Linked DNA regions of Homo sapiens. The protein of the gene in region 2 interacts with the protein of the main gene of each other region in a pairwise test. Each region holds a gene or a part of one and is shown on either strand. Other genes may lie near its edges.

The links. Proteins that work in one complex are often made in the same cells at the same time.
Region 1: the proteins of SGTB (region 2) and ABCG4 interact in binary tests that used the Homo sapiens proteins (3 or more experiments, as listed by UniProt).

Annotation. Positions count from the first base shown.
Region 1 is NC_000011.10:119,152,052-119,159,051, forward strand, and holds part of ABCG4 (ATP-binding cassette sub-family G member 4), read left to right. Parts: intron 1-1,151; coding exon of another isoform or gene 1,152-1,206; exon of another isoform or gene 1,207-1,717; coding exon of another isoform or gene 1,718-1,763; intron 1,764-1,974; coding exon 1,975-2,092; intron 2,093-2,208; coding exon 2,209-2,341; intron 2,342-2,473; coding exon 2,474-2,524; intron 2,525-2,718; coding exon 2,719-2,864; intron 2,865-4,277; coding exon 4,278-4,401; intron 4,402-4,512; coding exon 4,513-4,627; intron 4,628-4,820; coding exon 4,821-4,963; intron 4,964-6,182; coding exon 6,183-6,281; intron 6,282-6,505; coding exon 6,506-6,674; intron 6,675-6,777; coding exon 6,778-6,878; intron 6,879-7,000. UniProt on the Homo sapiens protein: ATP-dependent transporter of the ATP-binding cassette (ABC) family that may be involved in the cellular efflux of sterols, in particular cholesterol and desmosterol (a cholesterol precursor), to high-density lipoprotein (HDL).
Region 2 is NC_000005.10:65,677,021-65,684,130, reverse strand, and holds part of SGTB (small glutamine-rich tetratricopeptide repeat-containing protein beta), read left to right. Parts: intron 1-3,336; coding exon 3,337-3,475; intron 3,476-3,574; coding exon 3,575-3,637; intron 3,638-7,110. UniProt on the Homo sapiens protein: Co-chaperone that binds directly to HSC70 and HSP70 and regulates their ATPase activity.

The sequences.
Region 1 (7,000 bases), on a different chromosome or scaffold from region 2:
AGGGGAAGGTTCGTCGTTGCCAGTTTCTTCTCCTGCAAGAGATCACTTCCTGTGAGTGGCTCTGAAAGGCATATGCTGGAGTGCGCCACCAAATGTCTCTGATTGATGGCGAGGAGGACTGAGGCAGAGGGCTAGAGCCCACGGCTTCCCTCTCCCAGGAAAGAACTTGCTGTGTGACCCTGGGTGAGTCACTAGATGTCTCTGGGCCCCAGTTGCCTCACCCATGTTGTTAGAGAAACAGTTGAAGCTTTGTAAACCATGGGTACCATCCAGGCAGTTGCTGTGATCAGGACCTGGCAGCGGGCAGGAGCTGCTCCCCCTTCTGACGGGAAGCATCCAGAGGGAAAGCCGGGCCCAGAACACAGTCCTGGGTGTCGTGGAGGGAGGGTTAAATATGCCATCCCTTCACTGTCTCCACTAAGGACACTAAGGAGGTGGAGTGGGGAGGGACTTGGGCTCTGTGGGGGTTAGAGGGGGCAGCAATGAGCAAGGTGCTAGGTAAGGGATTGGCACGTCCTCACCTATGAGGCAGGTCTGCCAGCATCGCAGGCAGGGCCCTCCTTGGTGGCTTCATCCTTCCCCTCCACTTCCATGTCTCACCAGGTCACTCCATGTAGGCTCTGCCCTCTGTTCCTTGGATTGTGAGTGTATATACACATACTTTTATATCACAGAGCTTTTCCTCCCAAAGCCTAGAAGGCCTCTGCTTTCCCTTTGCCTTTTAGAATCCTGCTCATCCTTCAAGGCTTAGCTCAAACGCCACCTCTTCCATGAGGCCAGTCTTGATTTTCCTCTTTCCCCCCGACTCACGTCAATTCCATTCTTTGCGTTCTCACAGCACATTTTTTGTACTTCTGTTATAACCCTAATTTTATTTTTCTTCATAGATTTTTTTTGTTTTTCTGTCTTACTTAGACTATGACCTTCTTGAATATAAAAACTGTGTCTTCCTCAATTTTTATCCAGTGTTTGGTACAGAGCTTGGTATATAGTAGATATCAATAAGCATTTATCAAGTAGAATTAATAGTAAAATGTCACTTTTTAATGCATTCTATGTGCCAAGCACTGTGTCATGTGTTTTACATATATTATCTCATTGAATCTTTACAACAACCCTATGAGATAGGTACTATCATCCTCATTTTACAGATGAGGGACCTGGAGCTCAGAGAGGTTAAGCAACTTGCCCGAGGTCACACAGCTGGTAAGTGTGGAGCCAGAATTTGAACCCAGATCCACCTGACTCCAAACCGTGCTCTAAATGCATATGCTGCCTTCCAATGAATGAATGAAAGGTGAGATTTTACTGGGCCATGTAGGGGCTAGAGAAACAAGCCTGGTAGGCAGAGAGAGCGCAAAGAAGAAGGCTTTTTCTGAATTAGGGAAAAGCTCTGAGAACTCACGCTCGTGGAACAGACACTTACTGAACATCTACTACAGGCCAGACAGTCTGCTGAGATTACCAAGATGAGTGAGAACTGCCCCCAAGGAGCTCACTGACTAAGAGGCTGGGAGAGCTGGTCAAGTGACAGGCACATCAAGTAACAAACATGCTGGCATAGGAGAGGTGCTATGGAAACACAGGGGATAGGCAGCCAGCTCGGGCTGTAGTAGTGGGAGTTTTCCTGGAGGGGGCGAGACAGTGGCCACTGTGATTACAGAAGAGGACCAGGGTCTTCTACAGCTTTGATCCCCTCTCCACGCCCATCCATGAGATGTGTGGATTTTCCCACGCCTTTCAGAAGAGGATTGTTGCCTCTGGTACTTTGATATTAGTGGTGGTCGTTTCTAGGGGGACGGGATGAGAGGGATGGGTTCCTGCCGGGGCTATAAGGGTTGTTCCTCCATCCTAACCCAATCACACTGAGTAGGGGCTACCTATTTCACTGATAGCCATGGCTGCTCCTAAGAATTTTGGGGGTACCTCTGTTCACTGCAGCCTGACTAAAAATTCCTCCCCACCTCACTGCAGGTTATAAGACCCTTCTCAAGTGCCTCTCAGGTAAATTCTGCCGCCGGGAGCTGATTGGCATCATGGGCCCCTCAGGGGCTGGCAAGTCTACATTCATGAACATCTTGGCAGGATACAGGTAAGGAAGAGACTGGGGTGGAATGGAGGCAGGACTCAGGAAGAAGTATCCCTTGGGGAACACAGAAGGTATTCTGAAAGGGCATTGACCCCCATCCTCAACCCACATCCCTGCAGGGAGTCTGGAATGAAGGGGCAGATCCTGGTTAATGGAAGGCCACGGGAGCTGAGGACCTTCCGCAAGATGTCCTGCTACATCATGCAAGATGACATGCTGCTGCCGCACCTCACGGTGTTGGAAGCCATGATGGTGAGGGCTGGATAGTCACCCCTCCTCCCAGCAACCCCCTCTGTCTGCTGTCGCCACCTTCACCATTGGCGGAGGGTTCAAGGCAGAGCTCCCTCCCACACATACTTTTCTTGCTTACTCTCTGGGCCCCAGGTCTCTGCTAACCTGAAGCTGAGTGAGAAGCAGGAGGTGAAGAAGGAGCTGGTGAGTGGGGAAGGGAGGCAGTGGGACCACTCCCTTTTGTGGTGCTGCTGAGCTCAAGGCCCCGAGCTGGGAGTGGGAGAGTGGTGGCCTAGGCCGAGACAATGCACTTAAGGGAGATGCTTTTTGAAGCTGGGGTGGTGCCTGGGGGAAGCAGAGACTCCGAAGCTGACCTGGCATGGGTGGGGTGGGGCCAGGTGACAGAGATCCTGACGGCACTGGGCCTGATGTCGTGCTCCCACACGAGGACAGCCCTGCTCTCTGGCGGGCAGAGGAAGCGTCTGGCCATCGCCCTGGAGCTGGTCAACAACCCGCCTGTCATGTTCTTTGATGAGCCCACCAGGTAGTTCTCTCCACCCTTTCCCACCAGGATACCCCTCTCCTCTCGGCCCTGAGCCAGGGCTGGAGGCTGCATCTTCTCCATGATCCAGAGCCTCTGTTCACAGCCTCCTGGGGCCAAGATAAGGGCTTCTTCCTCATCTCCACCCTTGCCAATTCTGTTGCTGTGAGCTGCCCCATCCTTCGCCTGGGCAGAGATCTAGGTGTCCTCCTTGATTGACACCTCCCTCTCCAGTCACCCTCAGCCATCAGTCACCAAGTCCTGTTGATTCTGCCTCCTTTTGATATCTCTCAGATTTGCCCTGCCCCATCTCTAATGTTGATGTTAAGTTCAGGACAGCAACAGATTCTTATCTGCTTGTCTCCAGTGTCTCCCAGTCAATCCTTTCTCCAAACTGCAGCTACAGTGAACTTTCTTTTATTTTTTTAAGATGGAGTCTCGCTCTGTCACCCAGGCTGGAGTGCAGTGGCACAATCTCGGCTCACTGCAACCTCTGACTCCCGGGTTCAAGCGATTCTCCTGCCTCAGCCTCTTGAGTAGCTGGAATTACAGGCGTGTACCACCACACCCAGCTAGTTTTTGTATTTTTAGTAGAGATGGGGTTTCACCATGTTGGTCAGGCTGGTCTTGAACTTCTGACCTCAGGTGATCCACCCGCCTTGGCCTCCCAAAGTGTTGGGATTACAGGCGTGAGCCACCGTGCCCGGACAGAGTGAACTTTCTAAAGACAAGTCTGCAGTGCTCACTCCCCTGCTTAAAACATGCAGTGTTTCCTTTCTGACTTGTCCTCGAAATAAAGTCAGGTGACTTACAAGGGCCTGGTCTGAACCTACTTCTCCAGCCTCAAGTCATGTACTTTATGCTCTAATAATACTGAGTTGCTTGTAATTCCCTGGTCAAGCCACATGTTTCATGCCTCTAAGCTTTGCCCATGCTGTGTCTTCTGCTGGAATGCCCTTCACCACTGTGCCTGCCCTCTCCCCTTCACCTGCTTAGCTCTTACTCCTGGGCTCGCTCAGGAACCTTCTCTGACTACCCTCCAACACCTGCTACAGCTGAGCTGAATCCGCCCCCTCTTTCACCCAGTGTTGCTACAGCACTTTCCACATTACCCAAAATCATCTGTGTGCTTGTCTCTCTCTCCTTCCAGACCAGAGTCTATGTCTTATTTATGCATCATTGTAATCCCAGTGCCTGGCATACAACAGGTCCTCAATATATGCTTATGAAACTGAACAGTGCTCTTGGCTTCTGGGTATCCCTCCAAGTGCCTGAACCGTAAAGGATACAGATGCGGCCAGAGTGCCCTCTTCCTGCCAGCTTCATCCCCTTCACAGCAGCTGCCCCGCCCCAGACACTCCCTTCTTTTGGCCTCACCCACCTCACGTGGCCCCCTGGTGGCCTCTCTCTGGACAGTGGTCTGGATAGCGCCTCTTGTTTCCAAGTGGTGTCCCTCATGAAGTCCCTGGCACAGGGGGGCCGTACCATCATCTGCACCATCCACCAGCCCAGTGCCAAGCTCTTTGAGATGTTTGACAAGGTGAGTGTCTCCAGGCCTCAAGGAGGATTGGCCTGAGATGGAGGGATGGAAGGGGGTCAGTAGGGGTGCCTGGCCCGCTGTTCCTTCCTTACCCTTCTCTTTCTGCTGCAGCTCTACATCCTGAGCCAGGGTCAGTGCATCTTCAAAGGCGTGGTCACCAACCTGATCCCCTATCTAAAGGGACTCGGCTTGCATTGCCCCACCTACCACAACCCGGCTGACTTCAGTGAGTGGGGGTCTGTTGGTAGGGGCTGGGAAACAGCAGTGGGCCGAACCTGGGGTCTCTGGTCTTGCACTCAGGCCTCCTAGGGGTAGAGATCTCACCGTCGCCTGCCTTCCCCACACACCCAAGGCGGGACTGACTTGCCCTTGGGAAGTGAGTGTGAATCTAAACTGAGCTCTCCACTCTGTGTCCCCAGTCATCGAGGTGGCCTCTGGCGAGTATGGAGACCTGAACCCCATGTTGTTCAGGGCTGTGCAGAATGGGCTGTGCGCTATGGCTGAGAAGAAGAGCAGCCCTGAGAAGAACGAGGTCCCTGCCCCATGCCCTCCTTGTCCTCCGGTGAGTAGGGGTGGAGAGGGCAGAGCAGGCATAGTTGGGGAGGGGAGACTGGACCATGGACAGTGGCCCTGCCAAAGAGGCTGTTCCCCAGAGGCATTGCAACCAATGGGTGCTAGGAAGAACCTAGGACTTGGAATCGACCTACTAGGAACAGCACTGTGACCTTAGGCACATTATTTAACCTCCTTGAGCTCCAGTTTCCTCATTGACTTATTCATTCAGCAAGTTCTTGTTGAGCAGCTACAGTGTGCTGTCCTCGGTCCTGGCATAGTGCCCATCTGGTAAGCAAGATCAACATGGTCCCCAGCTTAGTGGCCAGTGTGGCTTACTGTTCTCTCTAACTTAGAGATGATGATACTCACCTCACAGGGTGATTGGGAGGACTAATTAGATAATCACATAAAGCTCTTAGCACTGTAGCTGGTACAGCAGGCGTCTGCCCAGTGCTAGTTCTCTTCCTTAAATGAGACACTGTAACCCCTGAAAACCAGATTGATTAGTTTTTGTTGTTATTGTTGTCATTATCATCATTATTAAATAACATTACTGTAAAATTGGTGGCATAAAGGAATTATACCTGGCCGGATACAGTGGCCCACGCCTGTAATCCCAGCACTTTGGGAGGCCGAGGCGGGTGGGTCAGGAGATGGAGACCATCCTGGCTAACACGGTGAAACCCCATCTCTACTAAAAATACAAAAATTAGCCGGGCGTGGTGGCGGGCGCCTGTAGTCCCAGCTACTCGGGAGGCTGAGGCAGGAGAATGGCGTGAACCAGGGAGGCGGAGCTTGCAGTGAGCTGAGATTGCGCCACTGCACTCCAGACTGGGCGACAGAGCGAGACTCCGTCTCAAAAACAAAACAAAACAAAACAAAAAAAACCCAAAACAAAACAAAAAAGGAATTATACCCTTAGAGTTCATGTGTTTTGATGGATTAAAAAAGTAACCGATCTATTATTAGCCACCACGGGTGTCCATTACTTTCTTTCCATCTCCTCCCTCCCAAGTTTTTGCCCCCTTTTTGTGTCTGAATCTTGCTCTGATTCATACCCCTAAGCCTAGCTTTCAGGTACACAACTTAATGGTACAAGATTCTCTGTAGACCTGGAGGACCCCTACCCTGGGGAAGAGCTCTGAGGTTTTTCATTCACTGAGCTGGGTGTTCTGTGGGTGAATGGGGTAGGCTCACCTGATCCCGATCCAATTTCTTCTTCCCAGGAAGTGGATCCCATTGAAAGCCACACCTTTGCCACCAGCACCCTCACACAGTTCTGCATCCTCTTCAAGAGGACCTTCCTGTCCATCCTCAGGGACACGGTGAGGCGTCAGGCTGGGGGAGAGGAGGCTGGCACAGGCCTGACCTTTTGGGCTGTAGGATCCCAGCAGCTGAAATGGGAATGGGGACCCTCCCTCACAGCCCTGCAATGTGCCTGTGGGGTCTCTGTGCCTGTGAGGGCAGCTCCGAGTTCCTACTCCAAGTCTACTCTGTGGCTTGCCCTGGCCTGTAACACATCCCTCTCCTGGTGATGACCCCTCCCAAGGTCCTGACCCACCTACGGTTCATGTCCCACGTGGTTATTGGCGTGCTCATCGGCCTCCTCTACCTGCATATTGGCGACGATGCCAGCAAGGTCTTCAACAACACCGGCTGCCTCTTCTTCTCCATGCTGTTCCTCATGTTCGCCGCCCTCATGCCAACTGTGCTCACCTGTGAGCTGAGCTGCCCTGGGCATGGGGCAAGGGTGTGGGTGCTGGGGCTTGGGGCAGGGGCCAGGGTGTCGGCCGGGTGTGCCTAAGCAGCCTGTGTCCTCAGTCCCCTTAGAGATGGCGGTCTTCATGAGGGAGCACCTCAACTACTGGTACAGCCTCAAAGCGTATTACCTGGCCAAGACCATGGCTGACGTGCCCTTTCAGGTGGGCCTCTTCCTCCCACCTGCCCACTGCCTCCATCTTGTCTTGCTCCTTCTATCCTTGCTTTCTTGCCTCCCTCAAACTTGTCACTTTCCTTCCTTTGCTGTCCTTCTACTCACTTAGCA
Region 2 (7,110 bases):
CCTGAGTGACAGAGTGAGACCCTGTCTCAAAAAAAAGAAAAAAAATCATTAGTTGGACCCATCCCTTTACCCAGCGTTCCCCTCTAGCCACCATCCCACTTCTCAGTTCCTCGTTCTCTGCCCCTGATGGTTATCTGTACTTGCTGTTTCATCTTTGTCATCTCTTTTTTTCTTTTTTTTTTTTTGAGACAGAGTCTCGCTCTGTCACCCAGGCTGCAGTGCAGTGGCGCGATCTCAGCTTACTGCAAGCTTTGCCTCCTGGGTTCACGCCATTCTCCTGTCTCAGCCTCCCGAGTAGCTGGGACTACAGGCACCCGCCACCATGCCCAGCTAATTTTTTGTATTTTTAGTAGAGACGGGGTTTCACTGCGTTAGCCAGGATGGTCTCGATCTCCTGACCTCACGATCCACCCACCTCGGCCTCCCAAAGTGCTGGGATTACAGGCCACTATTAACTTATTGTCAAAATACATCACTCTCTAGGATCCTGACACTACACTTGCCCTGTTTCCCCTTCCACTTTACTGGATGCTCTTTTCCAGTCTCCCTTGCTTGTTCTTCCTCTCTACCATCTCTAAACAATGCTGTATTTTAGGGTTGCATCCTCTGCTGCTGCTGTTTCTTTGTCTTCTCTCTGCTCAGTTTATCCTGCTCCATGCTTTTAAAATTCATCTACAGTTGATACTCATTATTTGCAGATTCTGTATTTATGAATTTGCCTACTTGCTAAATTAATTTGTAATCCCCAAATCAATATTTACACTGCTTCTGTGGTCATTCATGTACATGCACAATTAGTGAAAATGTGTCTTCTGATGCTCTCGATCTCAACTGAGGGTGAATAAGGTGATGCTCTATCTTTTTGTTTCAGCTCTCATGCTGAAACAGTCTATTTAGTGCTACATTTTTTTTTGTATTTTTGTGCCTTTTATTTGTGATTTTGCTGTTTACAGTGGCCCCCAACTATAGGCTGAAGTGTTATCTAGTATTCCTAAGTGCAAGAGGACTGTAATGTGCCTTATGGAGAAAATATATTTATGAGACAAGCTTCATTCAGGCATGAGTTAGTGCCGTTGGCTATGAGTTCAATGCTAATGAATAAAATATATATATTAAATAAAGTTTCTTTAATCAGAAACACACATAAAAACAAGATTATATATTGATCAGTTGATGAAAATATGACTATTTACAACAGTTGCAGGAACCTAACTCTGTATTTTCCCTAGGAACAATTGTTCAGTATTTGCTAATTCATTGTTCATGGTGACTTTATAGAACAGGACTACTGTGAATAAGAATCAACTATATATATTATCGGATCTAATTTATATGTTTGAACTCCGTACTCATATATTCTACTACTCTTCAACTCTATGTTTGGATGTTTAATAGGTATTTAAACTTAACATGTCCCAGACAGAACTCATGTTCCCTTCCAAAATCTTTCCAATCTCAATACATTGTACAATTAGTTATCTATCCCATGCACAGGTCAGAAGCCTAAGAGTCATCCTTCATTGTTATTACGCCTGACATAAGTACTGATACTCTGTCATCAAGTCCTGTCAATTCTAGTTTCTGTATATATCTTGAATCCAAGTGTTGATCGCTATCTTACATATAGCCCCAGTCCAAACTACATCTCTTACCTAAGCTACTGCAATAGCTTCCTAACCGATCTCCCTGCCTCCATTCTACCCTTCTGCCCATGTAGATCCTCTACGTAGAAGCCAGAGTGAGCTTTCAAAAGCACAAATTGTATCATGTGACTCCATTGCAACCAGAATAAAGTTCAAACTCCAAGCAATGGTCCTCTATCATCTGGCACCCAACTGTTCTCTGACATCATCTCTCCATGCTTTGTTTTCTGTGTTCCCTCCTCATCAGCCCTTGTCCTGTTCCTTAAGAATACCAAGCTTGCATCTTTCTTGGGACCTTTCTGTTTACTGCTATTTCCACTACAATGCTCCTCCCTCATTTTCATGACTGCTTTCTTTACATCACTCAGATCTTTCCAATGTGGCTACTTTTTGAGCAGCTCTCCTATTCATTCCTTTAATATTGCCCTTTTTATTTGCATGCTTGTTGCCTGTCTTCCCCAGGTAGAATGAAATTTTCTTAAAGACAGAAAACTTTATCTTTTTTTTTTTTTGAGATGGAATTTCGCTCTTGTTTTCCAGGCTGGAGTGCAATGGCACAATCTCGGCCCACTGCAACCTCCGCCTCCTGGATTCAAGCAATTCTCATGCCTCAGCCTTCCTAGTAGCTGGGATTACAGGCGTCTGCCACCATGCTTGGCTAATTTTTGTATTTTTAGTAGAGACAGGGCTTCACCATGTTGGCCAGACTGGTCTCAGACTCCTGACCTCAAGTGATCCACCCACCCTGGCCTCCCAAAGTGCTGCTGGGATTAGAGACGTGGGCCACTGCGCCCAGCCAGGATCCTCAGTATCTTTAGATATTATTTTAATAATATTCTTATACATCATAGAGTTTCAGTAAATAGTTACTGACTTGACTCTTGATTAACTGGGGACTCTGATAAAGTATCATACATGGTTGACTGGTAGAAAATGAATTAGGTTCCGATAAAGAGAAAAAGAGAAAAGAAAACAGTAATTTGTTTAAAACAAACCTAAAACAAACAGAAACCCCTAATACTATGTCACCATATATACAGTTATTGTTTAGTTCTATAATAATTTTTCAATAAGTAAATTATAACTAGGTAAATATGAACATTAAAATTTAATACCTCTTTGACTTGTGCCTGGTATAATTTGTTATTTGAATTGTAAAGGATGCTAATTTTATCTACCTCTTTTGATCAGGAATAGTTATCTAATAACTACAGCCTGTTTTCTTAATGGAAAATTGATATTAATTGTTCCTCTGTTAGGAAGAAGAAAGCATGTAGGCCATTTTGAAGCACAAATACAGTTTAGAGTCCTTAAAAATGGTGTTAGCATCATGGATTTATGTGACCACATGATTGTCAACTCACATCTTTTGGAACTTAGTCTAGGCATTTATAAAGCAAATTATTTTACATATTAAGCTTAAAAATGGTAGAGTAAGTAAGATAATCTCTAAGCATTAAATTCATGATCTATAGGACAACCAGGTTATCAGCAAGCAGAATGGAGTGAGTTCAGATATATAGAATCTTAAGTTGGAGGGAATTTTGCTCCCGTGAGCCATAGTACAGTGAATAAATTAAGTGTAATCTGGATTAGAACTGAATACCAAGACAGACAGACGTTTGACGATGTTTGTGATGTCCTGATGTTCTTTAATCATATATCTGATATTCTTATATTCTATTCCCTTCAGGCTGGCCCTCACTGCCTTGAATAAATTTGAAGAAGCAGTTACAAGTTATCAAAAGGCATTAGATCTTGACCCTGAAAATGATTCCTATAAGTCAAATCTGAAAATAGCAGAACAGAAGTTAAGAGAGGTATCCAGTCCTGTAAGTTGTTAATGCCAAATGAGTGAAGTATTTTCTGTCATTCACAATTTATTGTAATTGTAGATACTGGACTGATTCTCAGATATAATTGTTTTACAGACAGGAACTGGACTGAGCTTTGACATGGCTAGCTTGATAAATAATCCAGCCTTCATTAGTATGGTGAGTATACTTTCTTTTCTGCCTCTACTGGCTATGTTTTCCATAGACTATGTAGCTATGCAATTTTTTTTAGAAACAAGTGAGTTTTTGTGGTGGTGGTTGTAGTGGAGTATTGATATAAGGCTATAGCAGGGTTCTGTTTTTTTATTTCCAACTTTTATTTCAAGTGCAGGGGTAAATGTGCAGGATGTGCAGGTTTGTTACATAGGTAAAACGTCTGCCATGGTAGTTTGCTGCACAGATCCTCCCATTACCCAGGTATTAAGCCCAGCATCTATTAGCTGTTCTTCGTGATCCTTCCTCTCCTCCCATCCTCTGCCCTCCAACAGGCCCCAGTGTGTGTTGTTCCCCTACATGTGTCATTGTGTTCTCATCATTTGGCTCCCACTTGTAAGTGAGAACATGTGTTATTTGGTTTTCTTTTCCTGTGTTAGTTTGTTAAGTAAAATGGTAAAATGGCCTCCAGCTCCATCCATGTCCCTGCGAGGGACATAATCTTATTTCTTGTTTTGGCTGCATAGCATTCCATGGTGTATATGTACCGCATTTTCTTTATCCAGTCTATCATTGATAGGCATTTGCATTGATTCCATGTCTTTGCTATTGTGAATAGTGCTGCAGTGAACATACGTACGAATGTGTATTTACAGTAGAAAGATTTCTATTCCTTCGGGTATATACCCAGTAATGGGATTGCTGGGTCGAATGGTATTTCTGCTTCTAGGTCTTTGAGGAATCACCACACTGTCTTCCACAATGGTTGAACTAATTTACATTTCCACCAACAGTGTTAAAAGCATTCCTTTTTCTCCACAACTTCGCCAGCATCTGTTGGTTTTTGTTTTTTTTGTTGTTGTTGTTGTTTGTTTGTTTTTTGAGACAGAGTTTCACTCTTGTCACCCAGTCTGGAGTGCAATGGTGTGATCTTGGCTCACTGCAACCTCCACCTCCTGGGTTCAAGCGAATCTCCTGCCTCAGCCTCCTGAGTAGCTGGGATTATAGGCACCCACAACCATGCCTGGCTAATTATTGTATTGTCAGTAGAGATGGGGTTTCACCATGCTGACCAGGCTAGTCAAATGACCTCTGGTGATCCGCCTGCCTCAGCCTCCCAAAGTGCTGGGATTACGGGCATGAGCCACCACACCTGGCCTGTTTTTGAGTTTTTAATTATAGTTGTTCTGACTTGTGTGAGATGGTATCTCATTGTGGTTTTGATTTGCATTTCTCTAATGATCAATGATGTTGAGCTGTTTTTTCATATGTTTGTTGGCCACATATATGTCTTCTTTTGAGAATTGTCTGTTCATTTCCTTTGCCCACTTTATAATGGGGTTGTTTTTTTCTTGTAAATTTGTTTAAGTTCTTATAGATGTAGGATATTAGACCTTTGTCAGATAGATAGATTGCAAAAATGTTCTCCCATTCTGTAGGTTGTCTGTTTACTCTGTTGATTGTTTCTTTTGGTGTGGAAAAGAAACTCTTTAGTTTAATTAGATCCCATTTGTCAATTTTTTCTTTTGTTGCAATTGCTTTTGGCATCTTCATCATGAAATCTTTGCCTGTGTCTATGTCCTGAATGATATTGCCTCGGTTTATAGAGTTCTTATAGTTTTGAGTTGCACATTTAAGTCTTTAATCCATCTTGAGTTGATTTTTGTATATATATGGTATAACGAAGGGGTCCAGTTTCAATTTTCTCCATATGGCTAGCCAATTCTCTCAGCAACACTTATTAAATAGGGAATCCTTTCCCCATTGCTTTTGCCAGGTTTGTCAAAGATCAGATGGTTGTGAGTGTGCAGTCTTATTTCTGGGTTCTCTGTTCTGTTCCACTGGTCTATGTGTCTGTTCTTGTACCAGTACCATGCAGTTTTGGTTATTGTAGCCCTGTAGTACAGTTTGAAATTGGGTAGCATGATGCCTCAGCTTTGTTCTTTTTGTTTAGGATTGCCTTGGATGTTTGGGCTCTTTTTTGGTTCCATATGAATTTTAAAATAGTTTTTTCTAATTCTGTGAAGAATGTCAATGGTAGTTTAATGGGAATAGCATTGAATCTATAAATTGCTTTAGGCAATATGGCCATTTTCACGATTTTGATTCTTCTATCCATGAGCATGGAGTGTTTTTCCACTTGTTTCTGTTCTCTCTTATTTCCTTGAGCAGTGGTTTGTAGTTCTCCTTGAAGAGTTCCTTCACTTTGCCTGTTAGCTGTATTTCTAGATATTTTATTCTTTTTATGGCAATTGTGAATGCGAGTTCATTTGTGATTTGACTTTCGACTTGCCTGTTGTTGGTATGTAGGAATGCTAGCAATTTTTGCACATTGATTTTGTATCCTGAGACTGTGCTGAAGTTGCTTATCAGCTTAATAAACTTCTCGACTGAGACAATAGGGTTTTCTAGATATAGGATCCTGTCATCTGCATATAGGGATAATTTGACTTCCTCTCTTCCTATTTGAATATGCTTTATTTCTTTATTGTGCTTCATTTCCCTGGCCAAAACTTCCAATACTATTAATTTGTTGAATAGGAGTGATGAGAGAGGGTATTTTGTCTTGTGCTGGTTTTCAAGGGGAACACTTCCAGCTTTTGCCCATTCAGTATGATATTGGCTGTAGGTTTGTCATATATGGCTTTTATTATTTTGAGGTATGTTCCTTCAATATCTAGTTTATTAAGAGTTTCTTATATGAAAGGATGTTGAATTTTCTTGAAGGCCTCTTCAGCATCTATTGAGATAATCATGGGGTTTTTGTCTTTAGTTCTGTTTATGAGATGAATCACATTTATTGATTTGCATATGTAGAAACAGCCTTGCATCTTGGGGATGAAGCCTCCGTGATTGTGATGGGTAAGCTTTTTGATGTGCTGCTTGGATTCAGTTTGCCAGTATTTTGCTGAGGATTTTTGTATCAATGTTCATCAAGGATATTGGCCTGAAGTTTTCTTTTTTGTTATTGTATCTCTGCCAGGTTTTGGTATCAGGATGATGTTGGCCTCATAGAATGAATTAGGGAGGAGATCCTCCTTTTCAATTTTTTAGAATAGTTTCTGTAGGAACGGTACCAGCTCTTCTTTGTACCTCTGGTAGAATTCAGCTGTGAATTCGTCTGGTCCTGGGCTTTTTTTTTTTTTTTTGGTTGGTAGGCTATTTATTAGTGCCTCAATTTCAGAACTCATTATTGGTTTATTCAGGGATTCAATTTCTTCCTGGTTCAGTCTTGGGAGGATGTATGTGTCCAGGAATTTATCAAGTTCTTCTAGAAATTCATTAGTAAAATTTCTAGTTTATGCGCATAGGACTGTTTATACTATTCTTTGATGGTTGTTTGTATTTCTGTGGGGTCAGTGGTAATATCATTTTTGATTGTGTTTGTTTGAATCTTCTCTCTTTTTTCTTCATTAGTATAGCTAGCGGTCTATTTTATTAATTTTATCAAAAAACTAGCTCCTGTATTCATTTTTTTT